Linked DNA regions of Homo sapiens. The protein of the gene in region 1 purifies or fractionates together with the protein of each later gene. This does not show direct contact. Each region holds a gene or a part of one and is shown on either strand. Other genes may lie near its edges.

Region 1 (4,127 bases):
TGACTTTTTTAACCTATCTGCTACAGGGCAAATTAAATCCGAGATGTAATCCCAAATCAGGGCTAACACTGAGATAGTATAAACTACCCCCATCTCCTTAAAGCTCACATATCAGTAAATATATTTGCTTTCTTGGGGACAGAGGATTGAGTGGTTATTTGTTAGAAAGCGCACACACACCACTTTTACTTGGTTAGCCCCGAGCATTAGGGTAAGGTCTGCTGGCCTGTTTTTGCTTCTCTATCCTAAGTAGAATAGAGGGTCTGATAAGGCTGGATGCCTTCACTGCCCAGCCCCAGACGTGTAATCCCCTTTATGAAGAATTGTCCTGGTTGCTGCCCTTTTGTCCCTTACCTGTTCCCTTTTGGCTTCTGCTCCCCGCTTGGTTGCCCTGAACACCAAAACAAACCCCGGGCCTCTGTCACTGCTCACCCTCTGATTTAACTTTAACTTTTTATCCTGCTGTAAGTGGTAATGGTAAGAATTTAAAAAGAAGATACTCACATTTTGAAAGTGTTTATTGTAGAAGGAAAAGAAACGTTGAATGTTTAAAACAAAACCACAATATTTTATTTTTACAAAGTGAGATGCTTATTTACAGCATTTATTATTAACTATAACACCATCTACCTTCAGTTTTCAACCATTTCCTACAGACAAAATTTAAAAGGAAGCTCCTTGAGCTTGTTTCTTACAAAGTAAATAAAAATAGATATACCTGTATTAACTATGAATATTTTAAGGCAGTTTTGTGCCGGCATCCATGAGAGACTCTGTCCACCTCCTGCTGGTGCTTCATTCCTTTCAGTGCTGTACATGACCAAGGCGAGCAGGGGCAGTGCTCAGAGTCTGATCGCCAGATGCAGTGCCCTGGAGTTTCCTCCCCGCAAGTCCAGCCTGGGTCAGTTCCAGCCGAACAATTTTTGTGTTTTAAAAATAATGTGTAGACTCAAGATAATTTCACTGGATTTAAAAATAGAAATACCATTTCCCACCTGCCTCCTTCACTCCTTTCTCTAACACTCAAAGGCCTATCCTTTGAGAATCAAAATAATATGGTTCTTTTTAGCAAAGGGATTTGTGTTTTGCCCTCACATAGCCTAAGCCGTAGAGAAAATAGATAAAACGATCTCAAAATTATTTTCTTTCACAGACAAATCATGTGGAAAAGACAAGCTACTGCTATGTCAGGGATCTTGGGCAGAGAGACCCCACTCAGTCTACCACCTTGAGAAGGATGTGGCAGGACCCAGTGGGTTTAAATAGTTCATCCTGTTTACTGTAACATCCTTGGTACATATGATTTTTTTGTGCTCCTTGGAGACTTATTCTTTCTTTGGAGATTATAGGCTGTTTCTCAGTCCTACCCTTTCTAACACTCTCTTCCTGTCCTCATCTGCCCTCATCCAGTCTCCACGTGTCTCAGTTTCTGTATCCGTGCTCCACGGCAGCCTCCTTTTAAGGCTTGAAGTCTTCTGGGCGGATTTTCATCTCCACCCGTTTGAGGGAGTAGGTAGATCCATGCCAGCCATACCAGGTGATGCCATCCAGGTGCTTATTGTGCTCACCCAGGCGGTAGTACACTCCATTGAGGTTGGAGTCTGTGCAGCAGTTGTACCAGTAGCCACCTGGCATGAGAAACAGACCCAGTGCTAGTAAGTTGACTGTGATAGACCAGACATCAGGTAAGGAGTTAGAGCCAGGGTCAGAAAGAATACCAAAACCGGAATATCAACTGTACAGTTATAATTCACTCTTTCTCCTCAAGTGGGATTATGAGCTTGTACCTGAACTTCTCCTTTCCGGTCCCCCCAAATCTCACCTTTGCGGAGCTGTGCACACTTGTCCAAGCAGTTGTCATTGTCCTTGTCCTTGGTGCTGAAGGCTGTGTTGTTATGATACTGGAGGGCGTCGTTCCCCACATTGCCAGTGTAGTTCCCCAGGAAGAGGCGATAGCTGTTGAGTTCATTGCCCAAAACAAAGTGGCTATACTCAGCGTAGCGCAGGTTGCCCTCCCAGTCCTGTCAGGAGGAGCAGAGCCTTAAAGAAAGTGCAGCAGGCTCCATTTCATGCTGTCTCTATACCCCTTCTCTCCTGACAGTCCCATAGCCAAACATCTTTTTATAGGTGTGAATCTAATAAGACTTTATTACTTGTTTACCTCCAGTTTACTGTGTTAACCTGGGAATCAGAAAACAAGGCTCGAACTTCTTTCCTGATTCACCATATGGCCTTGATTAGTCTCTCTTTCTATATTCCTCACTTTCCTGCTTATAAGGTGCAGCTATGTTTTTGCTGAATCCCACACAGAGCTGCTGTAAGAGAAACATGAGGATATAGTGAGTGCTTTCAGACCTTCAGCAAGGGTCCCCAAACAGTATCAGTAAGATTTGCACCTAAAGGACCTCATGCTCGGCCAGAGCAGAGACTAGTGTTCGGCACAGCTGACTGTTGAATTTGCTCTACTCTGGCCTGGGTCTGGCCTCTTCCTGTCCCACCTGCAGCCCCACTTTTGTCGGGGGGTTGGGGGGGTTGCAGAAAGGAAAAATACCTATTTTTCCTCAACTCCATTACAACTTGCAGGAAAACCATCACAATGAATATACAGATTTGTCTTGAATCAGAATAGGAATGGCACCCCCGGAGTTGTACGCGGTCATGTGTGGTGGCACTGGTCCAGTCATGGGGCCCCTGGCCTTGTGCTTACCTCCATCTCTACACGCAGCCGGGTTGGCTGTCTGGAGAGCCGGTGGATGTGTTCGTTCCCCAGCCAGAAGTCCCCACGGATGCTGCCAAAGCCCTGCTTGTACTGCTTCCAGTCCCGGTAGAAGGAGACAAGGCCACTTTTTCGTCTCTGGATGATGGTCCAGCCTCCGCCTGAAGTCTCCATGTCACAGAACACCTGAAGCAGAGGGGATACTCTGGTGAGGGACTTGCAGGGGCAGAAGGCAGGAGCAAGAGGGCAGGCTTCCCAACCTGTTCCTGTCCCTGCAGAGCCAGTAGATGTGTGCACTCCCGCAGTCACACTGGCTCACTCGGGCAGTGATGCTGCCCCACTGCTGGTGAGCTGGGGTGGGTGGTGCATTGCTCTGGAAGAACGATGCAAATTGGGCCCGGGGGTGAGTGCACATGAAGCTTGGAGGGAAAAATCCAGATACTTTTTTTTTTTTTGAAGCAGAATTTCACTCTTGTTGCCCAGGCTAGAGTACAGTGGTGCAATCTCGGCTCACTGCAACCTCCACCTCCTGAGTTCCAGTGATTCTCCTGCCTTCCTAGTAGCTGGGACCAGAGTGCCTGTCACCACACTGGGCTAATTTTTGTATTTTTAGTAGAGACTGGGTTTCAGCATGTTGGCCAGGCTGGTCTCAAAGTCCTGACCTCAGGTGATTGTTCCGCCCACCTCACCTCCCAAAAAACTTGGGATTACAGGTGTGAGCCACCATGCCTGGGTGAAAATCCAGATAATTTGATGCTGCCTTCGTGTTTTCTTTTCTCCTCCCCCAAGGAATAGCTGTTCTAGGACATGGCAAGAGATTTAAACTAAGTTATGTGGTGGTTATAAGAATGATCTGATCTATGTTAGAAGGCTTGTTGTTTGACTGATAATGATTTGAAGGGGCCAAACAGATGCCTGGGTTTGGAGTGCAGGGCATAAACTGAGTGTTTGCATAGCTCTGTGGTGTTTGGTGTGTTTGCTTGTGTTTGAGTTTTCCTTTTTTTTTTTTTTTTTTTTAATTGAAATGGAGTCTCACTTTGTCTCCCAGATTATAGTGCAGTGGCGTGATCTCGGCTCACTGCAACCTCTGCCTCCTGAGTTCAAGCAATCCTCCTGTGTAGCAGGGATTACAGGTGCCCACCACCATGCCTGGCTAATTTTTTTGTATTTTTAGTAGAGACAGGGTTTCACCATGTTGGCCAGGCTGGTCTTAAACTCCTGACCTGAAGTGATCCACCTGCCTCGGCCTCCCATAGTGCTGGGATTACAGGTGTGAGCCACTGCGCCCAGCCGAATTTTCCTTTCTTTAAACTGTGAATGGCCCTGTTGTTGTAGTCCCCTTGAGGGGGTGAAGGACAGGTATTAGGGCATGGCCAGTGACTGTAATGACCTCACCTCCAGTTCAGGGCTG
Region 2 (4,227 bases), about 150 Mb from region 1:
GACATGGCGGAACTCTTCCTTCTGCAGCAGCTCCAGGATGAAGTGCCACAGCTGGATCTGCCGGGAGCCTGGGGATGACTCTGTTTTGTAGGCCCAGTCAGGAAACTGATACCCTTTCATGTGAGAAGGTCAAGATTAAGCTAGTTAAGAGGTAGGTACATACATACCAGCAACCCCAACTGCACATTCCACTGCTCAGAATCTAGAGTGCTTTGCAAACATGCTGTAAGTACTCTCAGTCAGCTGGGCCTAACCACAATGGGGAGAGGAAAGCACAGAGAAGTCACCTATCCTTGTGGCAATCATTAAATCTGATAAGAGTTGGGCAGCAGCAACCAGATGTCCTAAGCTGACCTTTTCATACATTACTAAATACACCTACTTTCTGTGAGGACATAAAAGTGCTAAAGGGAACAAACAGGAAAGATAAACTAATGTTTCAGGAAAATACAGCTGAAAACTCCTTTTCCCTAAGGTTGGAACTGTGTCTCTGACAGCAAAGAGACTCTAAAGCTTAGGATATGGGTGTGGTGACCAGACATGTTAAATATACATCCATAGGAAACAAGCCTACAACTGTCCTGCCAGTATCCACCTAGCCAAGAGAGTGTCAGTCATGGTCTGACATTTGTGAACAGAGCTCAAGTGGAGAGGACAGGAACCACTGAGGGAAGCTTCCAGGTACATCAGAGATGATTAACTTCTGCTCACCTCCACCTCCTTCTGGCTTTTCCACGATGCTACAGCCGGCTTTCATTTTCACCCGCCTGCTGAGAGACACAAGCCACACAATTACTTTAAGATGCTATTTATTTAGTATCCTCTCAAAAGTTTTCTGGCAGTCTCTCCCCAAACTTCCTTTCCCCTGTTCTTCTTTCCGTATGCAACTCTCTTTCTTTCAAACATGTCACCTCCAAACTGCTACTCCCCAAGTTATCAAATGATGGGCCTCAGGTCATCAGCTTCAAAAGCCATAATTATCTCTCACCTGACTTTAAACCACAAAGTGTAAACACTGTCTTTAATATTTGTTTTCCTCCTCCTGACCAACCCTTCAAATGTAAAAAAATAAAAATAAAAAAGGAAGGTACAGTGAAATGGGTCCAAAAACGCAGCCAAAACAAGTCAAACAGTTTGTCTTCTATTACTAGACAAGCCCACATGCCAAGATACACAAGCCTGAGTTCACCAAGATGTACCAGTTTAAAGGATGAAAAAATCCCAAATCCATCTGATTCCCACTCAAGAATGAACATCTGATTTTGATTTATTTTACTGAATTATGTGAGATAGAAGGAAGATTCTTCCCAGCCACAAACTGCTCCCTCCCCCTTGAAAAATACCCTGGGATACAGGAAGTAAACACACCATATGTACATTTACTCTATTCAAAAAACACACACAAACTCTCAAAAATTTTTTGAGAAAAATTATACATTTTCTCCATTTAACAGGAAGGGGTGAAAAGCAGGCATTTCTGAAGCCCTTCTGGCCAGTGAGTGGAAGGAGTCTTGCTGCGATTTGAATTCATTCCATCCAGATTTACAGTTCCTCAATAAATTTCCTGTTCCTCCCAGCAAGGAGCTTTGTGTTAATCACTTAGCAAAAAGGAGGGAGGGGTGAAACTGCCAGAGGGACATGGAGGGAGGGCAGATCTACCCTCGCTGTTCCCCAGGGTGGATGACAGGCCCTCAGCATCCACATTAGCAGGCATCTGGAGAGAATGCCTAAGTGGCCCCCGCGTAGGGACAAATTCCTTATCTTGGAAATTTCACCTAACCTAGGATTTCTCTAGATCTTTTGAATATTTTTTCTCACCAAACACATTAAGGAGACCAGCAAGTGTCAGTCTACAAAACTACTAGCGGCCGAGGACAAGATAAACACCCCAAAGGAAGGAGCAGACAAGGAAAAACACACACACACACACACACACACACACACACTCTCACACACACACGAGATACATAATAACGAGGCACCGGGGCTGAGGCAGGAGCTTCCTCTTCCACCTTAGTGACAATGAGGGAGGAAAAACACGAATTTCCCCACTGCTCCAGGAAGCTGCCCTGGACTCTTAACTCCTAGGATGCGCTGTCAGATCGCGAGGCCTTTTACCCTGCCACAGAACTCCCTCCAACCATCACGACCCTGGGGTCCAAATCCCGTTGCAACGATAACCTGACAAGGAAACCCTCTCTTGACACTCCAGCTCTCCAATTTTCCCCATAAAAGTCCCTTTCCCAGGAGCCCTGGGGCGCCTCTGCACGCCTTTCGCATATTCACTGCAAGGACACTTCCATCCAAGTAGGGCCACTCGTCTCAACTCTGCAAACCACAGGACCCCTGCCCTTCCTCTGATCGCGACCACTCCCCGAAGAGTGAGGCATGCACAGTCTGGCGCTGCGGGTTTCCCGCAGCAGCTCCGGGTCCTGGCTTCCACAGCCCCCAGAACCTCCTTGCCATTCACCTCCCGGGCCGGGCTTCCCTTAACCGTGGCCTCAGGGCTGCGCGGGGCCACCGCATGAACGCTGCCCTGGGTCCCTGTCGCCCCTCAGACAGACACGGGATCCCACCCTCCCCCGCCCCCCGCACTGGGTGAGGCCCAGCTGGGTGGGTACGCGGCCTGGCGGCCGGCCCCGATTCCAGGGACGCCGTCCCCGCCAGGGTCCCGGATCCAACCCAGACACCCCGGCGGCCGAGGCGAGGCCGGGACTCACCTCTTCCCGGCACGGTCCGTCTTCGGTCCGGTCTCCTCCGCGGCGTCTCCGGCTCCTCCTCATCCACCCCAGCAGGAAGTGACCTCCTCGGCTGCTTTCGTCACTTCCATCCTCAGCAGAGAGGGCGGGGGAGGAGGAGGCGCCCTCCCGCCGGTTCCCAGCCTCACCTCGCCGCACCCAGCAGCGTCTCCCTTTCCTTTCTCCTTTCAGCAGACGCCGACTTCCGCCCGCACTCCTCCCCCTGCGCGCTCCTCCCGGCCCGCATCCCGCGCATCCGCCCCGGCACGGCCCGTGCGTCACGCTGCGGGGGCACGTTACGCACGCTCGTGGCGGGCGGCCGGCCCGGTCCGCTGCTGGGCCAGGGTCCTCCAGACGCCGAGGGGTGACGCGGCGCGAGGGGGTGCTGAGCTGCTATACGCTTCCCCCGCCAGTCCTGCGCCGTGAGGCAGAACGGACTTTGCGGGGCGAGGCGCTGCCCCGGGGTCCCACCTCCCGGGGGAGGGGACCTCGCAGACCCCACAGGAAGGCCCAGGCGCCGGGAAACAGTCTCTCCCACACAACAGAGAGGCGGCCCGTCTTTCTCCAGAAATGGGCCCTGCGACCTCCCAGAGTGGGGATCCCTCACAATGGGAAGACGGGACCCGCAGACTTCAGACGCAATTTCCCTACCCTTTAAGAAAGGGCCCTTTCATATACGTATGAAAGAAACCGCAAAGCTTTCTCTGAAGCACGTCGCTTTGGCATTTCCTCCCTGGGAAGACTGGGGGGCATGACCGCTTCCCCGCTAGTTCCCACCCCACTGCATTTAGTCTTAATTCGTCCCAGTCTAAGCAGCTTGCAAGTCCTCTCCCTAAGTCATTAAAACGCGTGTCCCCTTTTGGTTTTACCTTTTGTTCCTGCTCGGGCAATTTGTCTGTCCAAAGCATGATTTTTTCTTCCTTTAGAGGCTCATTAAGGATAAAGAATCTCAAGCAGTTCAGCTTTATCTGCAGTCCCACCCCTGTAAATCTGAGTGGTGTCCAGGCATAGTTTCACTCCAGAGGCAGAAGAAAGGGAGTAGTGAGGATCAGTAAAGGTTAAAGAATTTAGAATAAATACGAGCGTGGGGGAGGTGAAGAAGAGAGATGGGATTGAAGGAGAATTGAAGATCAATTTTGATCAAATGGATCAAAACTTTGTACCTCTGCTCTAGTAAGACCTTTGCACCGTCTCTGCCACATGGGACTTGGAGATATTAGTTGTTACAAAAATTGCTTCCAGTTTTGAATGTGCTACTAGTCACTGTGTAGCTCTTGATAAATTAATTAGTAAATTGGCTCCCTCTGGCCTAAAATTACCTTACCTGTTTTTTAAAAAAGATAACATTGTTGTGTCTTTTCTAGTTAGAACTTCCTACTCTGTAGGTGAACAAAATAAGGAGCAGAACTTAAACACCATAGAGAGGGTTACCGATACCTGCAACTAGTCCACTAGCTCTTTGTAGGAACTGTCTATATATTCTTTGCAT

The links. Proteins that work in one complex are often made in the same cells at the same time.
Region 2: the proteins of ANGPTL7 (region 1) and ETV3 purify together in Homo sapiens (affinity purification with mass spectrometry; one large-scale study listed by BioGRID and IntAct). This does not show direct contact.

Annotation. Positions count from the first base shown.
Region 1 is NC_000001.11:11,192,355-11,196,481, reverse strand, and holds the end of ANGPTL7 (angiopoietin-related protein 7 precursor), read right to left. Parts: coding exon 4,112-4,127; intron 2,903-4,111; coding exon 2,708-2,902; intron 2,316-2,707; coding exon of another isoform or gene 2,238-2,315; exon of another isoform or gene 2,073-2,237; intron 2,022-2,072; coding exon 1,823-2,021; intron 1,629-1,822; coding exon 1,459-1,628; 3' UTR 501-1,458; downstream 1-500. UniProt on the Homo sapiens protein: Has a role in the formation and organization of the extracellular matrix.
Region 2 is NC_000001.11:157,135,596-157,139,822, forward strand, and holds the start of ETV3 (ETS translocation variant 3), read right to left. Parts: upstream 2,801-4,227; 5' UTR 2,721-2,800; intron 771-2,720; 5' UTR 758-770; coding exon 712-757; intron 114-711; coding exon 1-113. UniProt on the Homo sapiens protein: Transcriptional repressor that contribute to growth arrest during terminal macrophage differentiation by repressing target genes involved in Ras-dependent proliferation. Represses MMP1 promoter activity.